Linked DNA regions of Homo sapiens: region 1 is linked to region 2. Evidence: fine-mapped expression QTL. Tissue or cell type: CD4 T cells. Region 2 holds a variant in brackets; the other region holds the start of a gene. All regions are shown on one strand. Distances are between the middles of the regions.

Region 1 (8,087 bases), 470 kb before region 2:
GGTAGGTCTGGAAAACATACAATGTAATTTCTCTCTTTCTTCAAGGAATGTCAATGATAAAACTCCCAGGCAAAGTCCATTTCTAGTTTAGAACTGTAAAATGTGCTTACAAGTACACAAACACACAGAGCAAGTACAAGATGGTAAAATTTTAGTGCTTAATTCTATTGAGGAGGAAACTTTAAGACAGGAGAGGGTAGACTTGAGAAAATACTACGTGGACAGTCTCCCATTTTAGCTATACAGATGATGGAAGCAATCTAACACCTCAAAGGATAGAGGTTAACAGCAGCAGACCCAAGAAAGAGCTTGAACCTAACTCAGGTAAGTAAAACATACAGTGAATTATAGTCATGCCTCAGTATACACAGAAGATCAGTTCCAGGACCTTCGTGTATACCAAAATCCATGCCTACTCAAGTCACACAGTCAGCCCCAAGCCTGGCATATGAGAATTCTGCATCCTGCAAATACTGATTTTCTATCCGTATTTGGTTGAAAAAAATCTGTGTAAATGGACCTGCACACTTCAAATCAACGTAATTCAAGGGTCAACTGTACTATTACTTAAACTGAAATATGGTCATAAAAGGGGACATTTTCTCTTTCCATTGTCTTCATTCTTAGAATCTCACCTAAAACAAGCCTGTCTTAAGGTTTCATCATGATTTACATAACTACCTTCAGATTTACCTATCTTTTTATATCCTAATTTTGCCCAGTTTTGTCCAGTTTTCCTAGTTCTAGTTAACCATGTAGACTGCATATTCACCTCCCTCTTCCCCACTACAGCAGGCTCCCAGGACAGGGATGTTTCATTTGCCTTTGCTCTCTGCAGTGAGCCCTCTGCTTGACACCAGGTGTTCAATTCAAGAGCGAAGAATATGTGGGTGACTGAACGAGGTGTTCAGACTGTGACTGGATGATGGCTTCCACAGATGGGTAGCGCACTGCTGGAAGAGTCCAACTCACACCACTCATTTGGGGCCAAAGGATCTCTCACCATCTGGCAGAGAGTGTACCTGCCCATAATCAGTGTAAAAGACTCTGGATGGGCCACAAGAAGCAACAGAGCAGACTGGTTAACAGCCTCAGTTCCATAGGCAGACCACCTGGTTCAACTCACAGCTCTGACATTTGCTAGTTCTAGAAGCATTATTGTTTTTTGAGCTATAAGACATAAAAAGCCACAAATGCAATTTCAGACCACAAATTTAATGTCTAACAATTGAAAATGAAAATAAAATATAATCAGATAGTATTTGATGACAATTCTACAAAAGATAGTGGTCTTGTAGCAAATAAAGTGATGTCTGTAGGTGACCAACAAGAAGGGTTATGCTATAGTTCTGACATTACTGGCACATTCAAAAATGCAATGCCCACTATACTTAAATCTAACCCACATAATGTAGTACTTAGTTATAAGCTATCTTGTTTTGTTTGCTCTTCTAATTGTTCATCTTATCTTCCCAAATAGGAGAATAAACTTCTGAAGTACAGAGACCATATCTTCTATTTTTCTTCCCCAAGAGTCTTGGCTCAGGTAAGCCCTTGAGAAACACTGACTGTTTTCAGTAGAAAGACAACACGATACTTTCCTTGCAAACAGACATGTTCTCAGCAAGAGTTGCTCCTAAAATCAAGACCAAGTCCTGCATGTAGCTTTGCTCTGTATTTCCTAGTTCAAACATGAGACTAAAAGCAGATTGGAAGTTTAGAAAGATGAATCCAATAACCTGGCCCATGGGAAAACACAAGATAATAAATCATAAGATGTGGCTCTAATCACTCTTTGAGCTTCATGTGACCACCCTCAGTACAATAAGCAGGCCACTTAGCCTCTGAGCCTTAAAGGCCCATAACCTAAGCCATCTCCCCACTGGAGGGATGTTTAAGTATCAAAGGAGATTGATGCTATGCCTGCTGTATATCTTCACCTAGCACTCCCACAAACATCTCAACTTAACATGCCCAAAGGGACCTGCCATCTCCTTTGTTCCTTACTGTAGAGGGGTGAGAGGGCCAGCTCTGGAGTCAGACCTCATGGATCTGCATCCTGGCTCCACCACTTACCAGGTAGGTGACCTTGAGCCCATTAAGTAACCTCTTTCTGCTTCAGTTTCCCCTTCTGTAAATGAGGATAATAGTAATTATATTTCATAGGGTTGAGAGAATTAAATGAACTAATTCATGTAAAGTGATTAACAACAATGCTAGGCACATAGTGAGTACGTGTTCAGTGCTCTCCATGAAGTCTTGCCTGATGTGTATAGGACAGTAGAAAATACTATCATGCCCTTACCAGCATCATCTTCCCAGTCATCTCTGCTCTGCTAGTGCCTCCTTTCCAACACTCACTACTCTTGTCTATTTAGGGACTAAGTCATTTCAATTCTGTTATCTTCTTCCCCTGCTATTCCTCCTTTCGCCTTTATAATTTTTCCCTTCGTTACCTCTTATCTAGACAAATAGGCAAAACCCCAGGTCCACAGGGCCCAAGAAGGTTCAAGTGATAAGAGTCCTGAGAGCTTGAGTCAGCATTAAACACCTCCTAAATCCAACACTACTAGGCTGTTCAGGCTAAATAAAACTCCGTAGTCTTGTGCTTTTGCCTGCATTTATTTGATACTAAGGACGGTAACACTGATGTTCTTAGAATCATCAGAAGCTCAAATTGGCAGTTTTATATGTCTTTAATGGAAAGAAATAAAACTAATTACCACAAATGTAGTTTGATTAGTTCAAAAATTCAAAACAAGGGGCCGTTGGGAGTGTAGGATAGGGGTTAGGAATCACTGTCCTAATCCCTCTTCTCTTCTTCAATCCACACCAGCTGTCAGATTAATCTTCCAGTAACACCAGCATTTCTGGTCTTGTCTTTGTCCTGTTTAGAAAATGCCAGTAGGCTAAAGAACCAGCTCCCTGGGGTCTGGGTCTCTATTGAAATCTTCGTGCCTGCACTATACTTGCCCAGCTGAACAAACTGTTTGCTGTTCCTCCTATCTACCTTTCACTGTCTGTCTGCTTGCCTTTGTTCCTGTGGTTCTCTCACTTCAATCTCTTCGGTCTGATCAACTTTTAAAGCTCACTTTATCCATTCCAGCAGGTATAGCTTAAAAACAAAAACAAACAAAAACCAAAAAACCTCTCATTTTAAAAACCAGGGGATTTCCTGATACCCCAGCCGAAAATAATTTCTTAAACCTCAGAATTCCCCCAAACAGTGGCTTTTCATTAAAAACCTTACATCAGAGTTATTAAGCAGGGTGGTTTTGGCTCCTCTCCTAGACTGTCTGCCATCTGGGGGCAATGGCAGCTTGGAAAATTTCTTTGCACAGATAACTACACTACGTAAAAGTTTGCTGCCTTTGCAAACTTTGAAACGCCTACAGGAAGAAATGGGATAAAAACGACTTTGGCCGGGCGCGGTGGCTCAAGCCTGTAATCCCAGCACTTTGGGAGGCCGAGGTGGGCGGATCACCTGAGGTCAGGAGTTCGAGACCAGCCTGGCCAACATGGCCAAACCCCGTCTCTACTAAAAATACAAAATTAGCCGGGCGTGGTGGCGGGAGCCTGTAGTCCCAGCTACTCGGGAGGCTGAGGCAGGAGAATGGCGTGAACCTGGGAGGTGGAGCTTGCAGTGAGCCGAGATAGCGCCACTGCAGTCCGGCCTGGGCGACAAGAGCGAGACTCCGTCTCAAAAACAACAACAACAACAACAACAACAACAACAACAACAACAACAAAAGACTTTAACAGAGAATGATCAGTATTTTTAAGATTCAAGTTTTTAATAAACTTGGGAATGTTATGCTTTGAAGCATAACAGATAATTATCATTATTTTTAAGATTCAAGTTTTAGATAAACTTGGGAATGTTATGCTTTGAAGTTTTCAGAGCTCGTAGCTAAAGCGAATAGCTCAAATGTTCTCCAGCCTAAGGCTTAATGTGAATTTAGATTATTACTGAAACATTGGGAGGGGGTATTACTCTTGAAATCTTATACCTCCATCCACAGATAAGAACACTCAGTGCAAAGAATTAAAGCTGCCTAAGTCAAATTCTTTTTTAAATGGCAAAGTTGTTTTTTTAAGAGACAGAAAGTGAGGGCAGAATGTACCTCTGGGCAGAGAATATCTTGAGGGACAGGTACTCGGAGAAGAGGAGATACAAATAGGGATTTTTAAAAAAGCAGAAAACCACCAATTTCTCCTCAAGTGAAGGGGGGATGTATCAGGTTTAACTTTAAGCTCTCTTCTGCTCAATTGCTAACTCTATTTTGAGGAAAGGACCTTTGGAGACCCGGCAGATATGCTGTCTGCAAACAATCCGGGGGAGTAAGTTCTTCTGCCCCCGTCTGTCCCTACACTTTTCGCATTCACACCTTCCCCAGATCCGTTTCCCAGCGTATCTGCCTTCCCTCTTTCCTCCGGGTCCGTCAACGTCTCACCCACCCGCGAGTCAGGCCCCAGCGCCCCTCCGCCCGAACGCCCAGGTCGTCGGGCCGTCTGCGTCCGTCTGTCCTAGCCCGTGCCGTCGCGGGCCGCGCTCACCCAGGCCTCCGCTCTTGTCCGTGCAGCCGCTCCGCCCGGCAGCCGCCGCCGCGCTTTATATCCGCGGCCGCCCGGCTCGGGCCCACGTGCCGCCACGCCAGGGAGCCTGGGGGTTGTAGTTCTGCGCCGCCGCCCGCGAGGCGCGCCCGGAACCGCTGGCCCGGAAACCCCGAAACGTTTTGCACACTGGAGTCTGCTCTTCCCCGGGTGTCACCTGAACAACATGGGCTGAAGTGACTCCGGCGCAGCGCCCCGGCTCCCCGAGGATCGGAAGCATCCGAACTGGCGGCCGGGTGCCCGAGAGCACGCGGCTCACCCGCGCCACGCCGAGTGCAAACCTCCCCCTGCCTCGTCTGCACGCCAGTCCTTCCCGCGTGCGGGCACCTCCTGGGCTCCGCTGCGTCTTAATTTTCCTTCTCTTGCGCAGGGCTCTGCAATCCCCACTATCTCGTGGTTCTGCGTTGTGAGGTTTGGGCTGCTGTTTCCGAGGCGTACGGAGAATCCCAACTGCCCATCGGCGTTCAGGTCTCTTCGGGTTGACGCCGCTGCACCAGCCCTGCAGACTCTCGTGTTAAAGAGAGATGAGCGAATTTTAAAGTGAATTATCTACTCATACGGGAGCTTTCCTGGCTTCTTTTGGAGAACATTTGAAAGAGTTTTGAAAGGGAAAATTATTTTTAACCCAACCGCCTCTACTTTCAGGAGTATCAGGAGTCTTATTCTAGGATCATGTACTGTGTGAATAAATCAGGAACAGAGCCAGAGACAAGTCCTCAGTTTTCTCTTGCTGATGTGATTCCACCTCAATTTTCCATAAAAGGCGATGGCTGATGCTTATTATTACATTTAGAGAAACTAAATTGTTCAAAGGGCTTTCTAGTTTGCAAAGTGCTTTTAAATGTATTCTAATAGTTCTTTCGTTGCACAGAGCACCAGAGATAATAGCTAATAAGTACTGTGTTCAGTGCTTACTCAGCCTGCACCGTTCTAGCTGTTTTAACATTTAATTCATAAAATAATCCCATTGGTGGGTCCTGTTTTATAAATGTATATATTACAGATGAGCAAGGATCATTCCATTTTACAGATCAGAAACAGGTTTAAAGAGTTGAAGTAATTTGCCAAAAGCCATAGAGCTGGTTAAGCTGTGGTTTGATTTCAAGTAGTCCAGAAGCTTGTGCTTTTAACACTATGTTATCCTACAGGAAAAAAAAATACAAAAAGAAAAGAAAAAGAAAAACCCTTAGTTACATGAAGCAAGTTCTCCTAAGGCTGCAGCATGGTTTTTGTTTTGGTTTGGTTTTTGTAATATTAACAAGAATATTATATCCTAATGGTACAATGAAAGTTTTTTTTTTTTTTGGAAAGTCACAGTTTAATAAGTGCAAAATTAAGTATGTCAGTACCCAAAAGGTATAGGTCATTAGGCTTAACATTGTCAACCAACAAACCAATATTCTAAATGCATGAACTAACTACTTTTTGTATAAATATGGTAGTGCAAAGTAATTCCTTATAATAATTTGTTAGTGTCTACCAAGAAGCAGATGCTAAGATGGGATTAGATGTGCAAGAAACTTACTGGGGGAGGGATTTGGAGCAGACAGGAGCAGCCTGCAGACTGATGTAGGGCTGACATCTGTGGAACAAAAGATGGAAGAAAGGAGCATGGAGTAGGGAGAGTCTCACTGCATTCTTACAGTATCCACTCTGTGCCGTTATGAAACTCAGAGCCTATACTGTGAAGTGTTGGGGAGACGTTGTTTTAAAATATGGTAAATGCAGTGATAGACTGTACAGAGATATTACAGGAACACTGAGCTCTAATCTGGGCTGAAGGGGGTGGTGTGTGTGTGTGTGTGTGTGTGTGTGTGTGTGAAGAGGCAGGAGGGTGTTCCAGAAACGTCTTACTGGGGAAGGTCACAGCCAAGCTAAATATCAGACAATGAGTAGGGCTTAGAAGAAGAGAGGCAACAAAAGGCTCAGTGCTGAACTGCAGGCCTCTAACCCCCTTCTGATAAGCGGCAGTCTCTGTGAGATTTCTTCTATTATTATGTAGTATTATTTAATCATTAATTTTCTTGCTTTTGTTTCTTGCCCCCAACTCCACTGCAAGGTGTTCAAGGCAGGCATCATGTCCTATTCCTTTGTTTTTCCCACAGTGCAGGACATAGTGTCTATCCAAGTGCAGGCCAAGAGGGTGAGATTTAGAAATATTACTACCATCAACTCTTCTTTGTTTAAAACAAATGTATGTCAGGGTTTTGTATCAGATTTTGTTTGCTACAATTCAAATTTGAAACCCACTGGTGCAGGGGAAAGAGCTTGGGAGATATGGTGCAATGAACTTGGTCAGAACAGTCATATGTTCTATCCTTGGAGCTGGAGGTGATGCCCCCATCACAGGCTCCTGAACTGACTGTGGGTGAGGGGTGGTCCCCCAGAAAGTTTCCCCTTATCTTCTGGTAAGGCTATACTAACCTGAAAAGAGAAAATGGGTTTTCAACAACTGAAACACTGCTAAATTGCGGAACACTTATGAAGGAAGGAGACCTAAGTTGGATCTTGAAGTGTTGTTACCCATTGTGTTCCAGTAAAAGGTCTGTCCACAGGTGGACAAGAGTCTGTTCCATTCACTGTGAAGAATGCGTAACCGGGTATGAGAGTCACTTCTGGAAATTCTGGCTTGTATGGGTGTGTCAATGGGGCTGATGGAAAAGGTAGGGTTTATTTTTTCATCAGAGTCCAGAGGTCTTCAGAGAAGGGAACAGGCCACGAATAGAAGTTGAACTGATTGCTGGCCCTGAGACAAAAACCCTTGTCCTTTAGGGTTTATCTTCTGAGCGTGAGTGCTAACTAGGAGAGGGACATCTCTTGAGAAGGGAAAAGTCCTGTGCATAAGCTTGGGTTCAGAAGATCCTTTGGGATCCCAGGAGGGGGCAGCATAGTGCGGCCATGCTCAGCTGTCTTTTGGCTTAGCCCTTTAGTGAATGCTTACTGGGTTCTTAAGGAGAAAGAGCTAGAAGGAAAAAAATGAGTTGAACACAAGAGATATACTTCCATATTTGGCATTCTTAAACCTAAGATCTGTGACTCCAGATTTTTAAGTAACGACTTTATTGACATATATTTCACTATGATACAATTCATTTAAGTGTATAATAGTTCAGTAGTTTAGTCTATTCACAGAATTGTGCAACTTGTGTCACCATTTTAGAACATTTTCATCACTCCCTCCAATAAAACCCTAGCCATTAGTAGTCACTCATTTTTCTATTTCCCCCTCCCCACCCCCAGCCATAAGCAGCCACCAATCTATTTCTTTCTTTCTTCTTACTTTTTTTTTTGGTTGCCCAGGCTGGAGTGCAATGATGCAATCTTGGCTCACCACAACCTCTGGCTCCCAGGTGATTCTCCTGCCTCAGCCTCTGGAGTAGCTGGGATTACAGGCATGCGCCACCATGCCAGGCTAATTTTGTATTTTTAGTAGAGGCGGGGTATCTCCATGTTGGTCAGGCTGGTCTCAAACT
Region 2 (8,106 bases):
AGATGGCCCATGGAAAGAACTGCCGGGGAGGTGCCCAATCAATGTCGCTTTCGTCTAGATTTCTTTGTGTGAAAGAACTGACTAGAAGAAAATACCCCACGGCAATCAATACTTTTTCCCAAAGCATTAGAATAAATGTAGAAATTTTTCACTTAAAGTCTTATTTGTGGTGGCCAGGCGCAATGGCTCACGCCTGTAATCCCAGCACTTTAGGAGGCTGATGCGGGCGGACCACTTGAGGTCAGGAGTTCGAGACCAGCCTGGCCAACATGGTGACACCCCATTTCTACGAAAAACACAAGAATTAGCCAGGCGTGGTGATGCACACCTGTAATCCCAGCTACTGAGGACGCTGAGGCAGGAGAATCACTTGAACCCGAGAGGCAGAGGTTGCAGTGAGCCAAGATTGCACCATTGCACTCCAGCCAGGGCAACAGAGTGAGACGCCGTCTCAAATAATAAAATAAAATCTTATTTGTGGAAAACGTAAGCCTAGGGATATTCCTAGGGTCAGAGAGTGGGCAGATTTAAAATTTTTTTAAAAAGCTGTAATATTTTCTACAGATGGGATCACACTATGTTGCCCAGGCTGGTCTTAAACTCCTGGCGTCAGGTGATCCTCCCACTTTGGCCTCCCAAAGTGCTGGGATTACAGGCGTGAGCCACCATGCCTGACCCAAAGAGTGGGTGGATTTTGGAGGCAACTGGACTTGAGGATCTTTTTCCAGCAAATACTAGAACAGATCATCTGAGAGATGAATGTTGGCCCTCATCCCACTACACCTTCTGAGGGATATTCTGCAAGCACCCACATGTCTGACTCTGTCTCACAGTCCTTATATTATTGAGAGTCCTTTCTGTTATCTTACTTAAAGTTTCTTGTGCTTCAGCATAAGTCATGCTCTCTTTTCATAGCAAGGGAGCACTGCTACAAAATGGACATTTTAACTACATAGTAACATCCTGTTTCATCTGAAGCTCTGTCGCTCCTTCATTTGCCTGGTTTAGAAGTTATGATACTGTAATGTGGAATGCTGGGCCTAGGCCAGACCTCTTCATTCACATGAGGAAACTGAGGCTCAGAGAAGTCCATTACCTAGCTATGATTCTACAGCCAGTATGGCACAAGAGCTGAGTTAGAACTCAAGTTTTCTGAGTCCAAATTTAGAGTTTTTTTTCTCTTCCCTTTCACCGAAGGGCTCCTTTTACTGGTCACATGTCTGGAATGACCCAGGACCTTTCATATGTCTCTAAGAGCCAATGTCAGATGTTTTATCCTGGGAGTCAGAAGACCCAAAAGTCCCAGTCTTAAGCCTCTTCAGAATTGCTCCTCTGGGCTGGGGCGTGGTGGCTCATGCCTGTAATCCTATTTTGGTAAGTCAAGGCTGGGGGATTGCTTGAAGCCAGGACTTTGAGACAAGCCTGGGCAACAGAGGGAAACCCAGTCTCTACCAAAAAAAAAAAAGGATTTTTTCCAAGGAGAATGACAGCAGAGCTTTTGTTTATGTGCTTTTTAGGGATAACAGATACCATTGGTGAAGCAGGAATGTCTTTTGCAAACTGGGACCTTTGCATGAGAAGATTCAATTAGAGATAGATAGATAGATAGATATAAAAATGTAATAATATGTATTGTAATTATATATGTATAAATTATGTAATATAATAACATATATTTTACATTTTTGAATATATGTATTTTGGGGATAAGGTAAGAATCATAACTTCCACCGATTTTTTTTTTTTTTGAGATGGAGTCTCCCTCTGTCGGCCAGGTTGGAGTACAGTGGCACAATCTCAGCTCACTGCAACCTCCACCTCCCGGGTTCAAGCGATTCTCCTGCCTCAGCCTCTTGAGTAGCTGGAATTACAGGCGCCCACCATCATGCCCAGCTAATTTTTGTATTTTTAATAGAGACAGTGTTTCACCACGTTGGTCAGGCTGGCCTTGAACTGCTGACCTCAGGTGATCCACCTGCCTTGGCCTCCCAAAGTGCTGGGATAACAGGCATGAGCCACCGTGCCCAGCCACTTCCACTGATTTTTTAAAAAGGGGTCTAGGACGTGAAAAAGTCTGAATCATTCATTCATTATTCATTCATTCAACAATTTTTTTTTGAATGCTTATTTTATGGAAGGCACTCTACTAGGGCCAGGTAATGTAATGGAAATATGGAAATAAAATACACATGTTCCTACCCTCATAGCACTTACATTCTAGTGAGAGAACTAAATGATAAACAATAAACAAATAACACACAAAATGTCACCTTAGGACAGACTGCAAAAAAAAAAAATAAGCTAAGAATTACTGATCTGACTATACTTTGTATTTCTCTCTGGATTTTATATTTTTCACTTTCCTTCTGAGAAAGTCAAATTTCTCTAAAAACATACCCAATTTAACTTCTCAGTTATAATTTAAAGGATAGTTAAGTCTCTAAGTCCTCCAAACCTCCACTTCAATGGTTTTTTTTGTTTGTTTGTTTGTTTGTTTTGAGACAGAGTCTCATTCTGTTGCCCAGGCTGGAGTGCAGTGGCATCATGTCGGCTCACTGCAACCTCCGTCTCCTGGGTTCAAGCAATTCTCCTGCCTCAGCCTCACAAGTAGCTGGGATTACAGGCACCCACCACGATGCCCAGCTAATTTTTGTATTTTTAGTAGAGATGGGGGTTTCACCATGTTGGCCAGGCTGGTCTTGAACTCCTGACCTCAGGTGATCTGCCCACCTCTGCCTCCCAAAGTGTTGGGATTACAGGCGTGAGCCGCCACACCTGGCAATGGGGTTGTTTTATCCACCAGGCTATTGAATAGATGAATGCTGCTTTCCTCCCTGCCTTGCAGCCAGGCAGGCAGGATCATTCCAGGTCTCTAGAAATGACAGGTCTGTTTGCCCAGCATGAGCAATGTGGTTTCCCATTGCAGAATCTCCCTCCCGGTAGATTGCAGCTGCTGCTTGTGCAAGACTGAATGATCTGAAAGACTCAGAAAAACAGACCACCAAGATGTACCAGTGAATTTTTAAGATTTGTGGGCCGGGCGCGGTGGCTCACGCCTGTAATCCCAGCACTTTGGGAGGCCGAGGCGGGCGAATCACGAGGTCAGGAGATCGAGACCATCCCGGCTAAAACGGTGAAACCCCGTCTCTACTAAAAATACAAAAAATTAGCCGGGCGTAGTGGCGGGCGCCTGTAGTCCCAGCTACCTGGGAGGCTGAGGCAGGAGAATGGCATGAACCCGGGAGGCGGAGCTTGCAGTGAGCCGAGATCCCGCCACTGCACTCCAGCCTGGGCGACAGAGCGAGACTCCGCCTCAAAAAAAAAAAAAAAAAAAAAAAGATTTGTGAACTGTCAGGATATTGTTCAAAATTGTATCAGAGATTAAATCTTTGCTTATTGCTAAGTGAATTTTTCATATGTGCATATCTGTTTTATTCAAATGCAAGTGATTTACACAAACCCCCATCTGCAATCCTTAAGACACTCACAGAATGATGCAGTGTTAGGTAACTAGAATTGTGTCTATTTTTTTGTTGTTGTTGCCTCCCCTGCCATACCTTTTTTTTGAGA[C/T]GGAGTCTGTCTGTCACCAGGTTGGAGTGCAGTGGTGCAATCTCGGCTCACTGCAGCCCCTGCCATCCAGGTTCTACAGGTTCTCGTGCCTCAGCCTCCCGAGTAGCTGGGACTATAGGCGCACACCACCATGCCTGGCTAATTTTTGTATTTTTAGTAGAGATGGTGTTTCACCATGTTGGCAGGCTGTTCTCGAACTCGTGACCTCAAGTGATCCATTCGCCTCAGCCTCCCAAAGTGCTGGGATTACAGGTGTGAGCCACTGCACCTGGCCATCGTACCTGTTTTCGAACTGGTTGTTCTAAATTCATCTATGTGAGTGGGCAGTAAAAAGAAGGGGTGACCTGTCAAAAGTCTTACAACTCAAAGAAAACAAAAAATAAATAAAACAAAGAAAATAAAGTCCTACAACTCAATGGCAAAGGTGAAATTCAAATCTAAGACATGATTTCTAGATCTCTGCTCTCCAGGCACGAGATTAGATCCGACAGCCTGACTCAGATTACACCTGTTATGTGCATACGATATTATCAGAATGCTGTGGGGCTCCAGCCTATTAGAATTTTCTGTTTTAGCTGGGAGTGGAGACTCACGCCCCTCAGCATTTTCGAGGCTGAGGTGGGAGGATCTCTTGAGCCTAGGTAGTCTAGGGTGCAGTGAACTATATGACAGTGCCACTATACTCCAGCTTGGGTGACAGAATGGGACCCAGTCTCTAAAAAAAAAAAATTAAATTTAAAATCAAATTTTCTGTCCGGTGCTGTGGCTGCTCACGCCTGTAATCCCAGCACTTTGGGAGGCCACAGTGACAGGATCGCTTGAGCCCAGGAGTACAAGACCAGCCTGGGCAGCCTAGTGAGACCCCATCTCTCCCCGCCAAAAATAAAATATTTGCTGGGCATGGGAATGTGTACCTGTAGTCCTAGCTACTTAAGAGGCTGAGGAGGGAGGATCGCTTGAGTCTGGGAGTTCGAGGCTACAGTGAGTTGTGATCACACCACTGCACTCTAGCCTGGGCGACAGAGTGAGATCCTGTCTCTTTGGTTTGTTGTTATTGTTGTTGTTTTCTTTTGAGACAGAGTCTCTTTGTCAACACTGTCTCTTAAAAAAAATTTTTTTTCTTGTCCTTACTAGTTTTAGGGAAGTTGTCACGCCATTGACTGAAAGGCCAGTTCTGATTTAGAAAAAAATAAACCTTTTCAATTAAATATGAAGATGTAGTTGTAACACTTTGGTCCCAAAACACAAGTAAATGACACTTAAAAGATGTTGGTGAAGGGCATGGACATCACTTGGAAAGTGAGTCATGTAAGGTTAGCAATGAGATACCATCAGGTTCCCAGGTGAGTGTCTGAAGTCCCACTGGTTGTCCAAAGAGGGTCTGAATTGGTTTGAACTCAGCTGTTGACTTCTCTTTTTCATAACCTTTCTCCCTACATCCATCTTCACTGAGATTCTCCCTGCCATTTCTTAATATATTGGATTTGATGAGGAGATGACATTCCCTTCCTCTGAGAGTCTCTTTGGAGACAGGCTTCAGGTCATGGTATTCCAGCATTTAGGCTACATGGCAGCCCTCCAGTGAAGGCATTGGAAAGTGTCAGAAAAGGAAATGGGCCTGAACTGGAGAGACAGTCCAGCTTCCTTCCCAAGGAGCCATCGGATATTTATAGAGAGCCAGGCCTAGGATGTATGCCCATTGCTGAGAAGGTTTTGTGGCCCGATCTGGTATACATTAGAGGCTCTATCTTTCCATCTCCTCAGTTCATGAAGCGTTGATTCCTGGCCTAGGAGAGACTGAAAGCCAAACCAAACAGGGGATTTTTCTTCCTTCATAGTTATTGTGAGCCAGCCAATTCCAGGATTTAAGCTCAGGCTTGTTAGGCTTTAGTCCTTCTGGGAAATGCCATCTGTTCAGAGAATGGCTTTCTGGGCAGCACAAGTGCTATTAATTCTATTCTAGTGTAGTTGCTGAATGGCAAGGCTCATATTATCCTTCACCCTGGGGGCAGGGAGAAAGGGTTAGGATCAGGCATTTGCCACCATTAAATCCACCCTCTTTTTTGTACGGTCTGCCTGTTGCCCCAGTTCACTGCCACACCCTCACCCCACACATACACAACAGACCTCTCCTTTAGTTTTCAAGCCACTAGGCAATTGAAATGTTTGTGTGAATTTTCACATAAAGTCTAGTCTTTGTGTCAAATGTGCAATAAGCCTCAACATTTGCATAGAGCAAACAAGGAAGTCTTGTTAGGAAATTTGTTCCTTAGGAGCTTATGTCTTAAATTGGACTGGTGCCTTTTGTTGTCACAGTTGTTTTTATAATGACATGCACATAGGTTTGCCTTTCTGAATTCTTATGTTGAATCTACTGTTGGTTGGCACCTGCCACTAGCATAAATTTCTACTCTTTCAATCAGTGGGACAAATTCACATGCCAGTCGAGGCTGATTCACCTGTTTAGGGCTGTGAGTGATTTGAAGAGGACTACCTTCTCAGCACTTCTTTGGCCCAGAGTCACAGGAACCCTCTTCTCAAGAATGTGGTCCTGGTAAGAGAACTTGCAAAATACTTACAGATTTCAGGAGTCCACAGTCCCAGGCAGAAGGAGAAGAGATATATCTGCTGGTTTGAAATCCTGGAGACAAATTTTTGTCCAATGCCCAGGAAAATTGGTTTTCTGACCAAAGACTCAGGGAGACTGGAAACTCTTGGGATGTGGATGACAGAGGAAGGGGTTAGGGATGGAGAAGGGAGTAGAGATGCATGTGTTCGGGACAGAATCAAAGACAGCATTCTTGATTTCTCTCTCCTTCTTACTCTTCATAATCTATTAGCAGGCCCTGTCAGTCCCACTTTCAGATCATGTCCTTGATGTCATTCACATCTCCCTACCTTCACTATCATCACCCTAGCCAAGCCTCTGCCATCTCTCACCTGGTCAACCCCAATACCTCCTCTGACTAGTTTCTGTGTATCTTCTCTTGCTGCATTCTAATTCATTCTCCATGTAGAAGACAGGGAAATCTTTTGCAATTGCAAATTAGATCACAAGGCTTTCCTGCTGGCATCCCTTGGGCCACTCTCCTTTGTTCCTGGAATTCCATCAAGCCACCTACCATGGCCTACAGAGTCCCCGGTGTTCTGGCTCCTGCTCACCTCTTTTAAGTCTTCTCATTCCTCTCTCCCACAGCCACACTGCTCCAGTCACATGGCCTCCACTCTATTTCTGGCCAAGCATTTCGGTTTTTTGTTTGTCGTCTTCTTTTTCTTCTTCTCCTTCTCCTTCTTCTCCTTCTCCTTCTCCTTTCTTTTCCTCTTCTTCTTCTTCCTCTTCTTCTTCTTCTTCTTCTTCTTCTTCTTCTTCTTCTTCTTCTTCTTCTTCTTCTTCTTCTTCTTCTTCTTTTCTTCTTCTTTTCTTCTTCTTTTCTTCTTCTTTTCTTCTTCTTCTTCTTTTCTTCTTCTTCTTTCTTCTTCTTTTCTTCTTCCTCTTCCTCTTCTTCTTCCTCTTCTTCCTCCTCTTCCTCTACCTCTTCTTCTTCTCTTCTTCTGCTTCTGCTTCTTTCTTTCTTTTTTTAATAGGGAGTCACTCTGTTGCCTAGGCTGGAGTGCAGTGCAGTGTCCCAATCACAGCTTACAGCAGCCTCAACCTCCCAGGCTCAAGAGATCCTGCCACCTCAGCCTCCTGAGTAGCTGGGACCACAGGTGTGTACCATCACACCCGGCTAATTTTAAAATTTTTTCTAGAGACAGGGTTTCACCATGTTACCCAGGCTGGTCTTGAACTCCTGACTTCAAGCAATCCACCTGCCTGGGCCTCCCAAAGTTCTGGGATTATAGGCATGAGCTACTATGCCCAGCCTAATATGGATCATTTTAAGCCCTCCTTAATGTGCATTAAATACTGTACTTGTGTTCGGGCATGGTGGTTCATACCTGTAATCCCAGCACTTTGGGAGGCTGAGGCAGGAGGATTGCTTGAGCCCAGGAGTTCGAGACCAGCCTAGGCAACATGGGGAAACCCTGTCTCTGCCAAAAATACAAAAAAAAAAAAAAATTAGCCAGGCATGGTGGCATGCGCCTGTAGTCCCACCTACTTGGGAGGATGGTTTGAACCTGGGAGGTGGAGGTTGTGGTCAACCGAGATGGCACCACTGCACTCCAGTCTGGGTGACAGAGCCAAACTCTGTCTCAAAAAAAAAAAAAAAACAACTATACTTGTTTACTGAATGATTGTTTATTTGCCTCCACTTACCCTTTGAAATTTACCAAAGATAAGTGACTAGGATTATCAACCATTCTTTATTTCCCTGTTCCATCTGTTTTGAGTTAGGAGAAAGACAAAGCAAAATGCAATCTCACCAACAGCAATATCAACAAAAGAAATCCCTTGAGCCATCTAGCCCCTAGCAGCTAGACAAGGAAGGCAAATTGGGATTAGGAAGAAGTGGGTAACCCGGAACGGCCACAGTAGGGATAAGCAGCTTCAGCAGCCAGAGATTTTCCCTTACTCTTAGGAGGTGACATAAGCAA

Which allele goes with the higher level. Positions count from the first base shown, and alleles are read on the strand shown. Sizes are in standard deviations (SD) of each study's normalised expression.
With allele T in place of C in region 2, the expression in CD4 T cells of the gene that starts at base 4,590 in region 1 is higher (large effect, 1.9 SD a copy in BLUEPRINT).

The links. PIP is the estimated chance that this variant, and not a neighbour inherited with it, causes the effect.
Region 1: it holds the start of NPL, and the variant in region 2 is fine-mapped to the expression of NPL in CD4 T cells (BLUEPRINT, PIP 0.95).

Annotation. Positions count from the first base shown.
Region 1 is chr1:182,786,276-182,794,362 of GRCh38, reverse strand. It overlaps NPL (N-acetylneuraminate pyruvate lyase), which reads right to left and starts at 4,590. Exons shown (of 13, transcript NM_030769.3): 1 at 4,558-4,590; 2 at 2,077-2,131; 3 at 1-7. RefSeq lists an enhancer at 4,437-4,937.
Region 2 is chr1:182,315,430-182,323,535 of GRCh38, reverse strand. No RefSeq gene overlaps it. Among named protein-coding and RNA genes, the nearest start is that of LINC01344, 5.4 kb to the right of the region's middle. The variant C/T (reference allele first, on the strand shown) is at 3,571.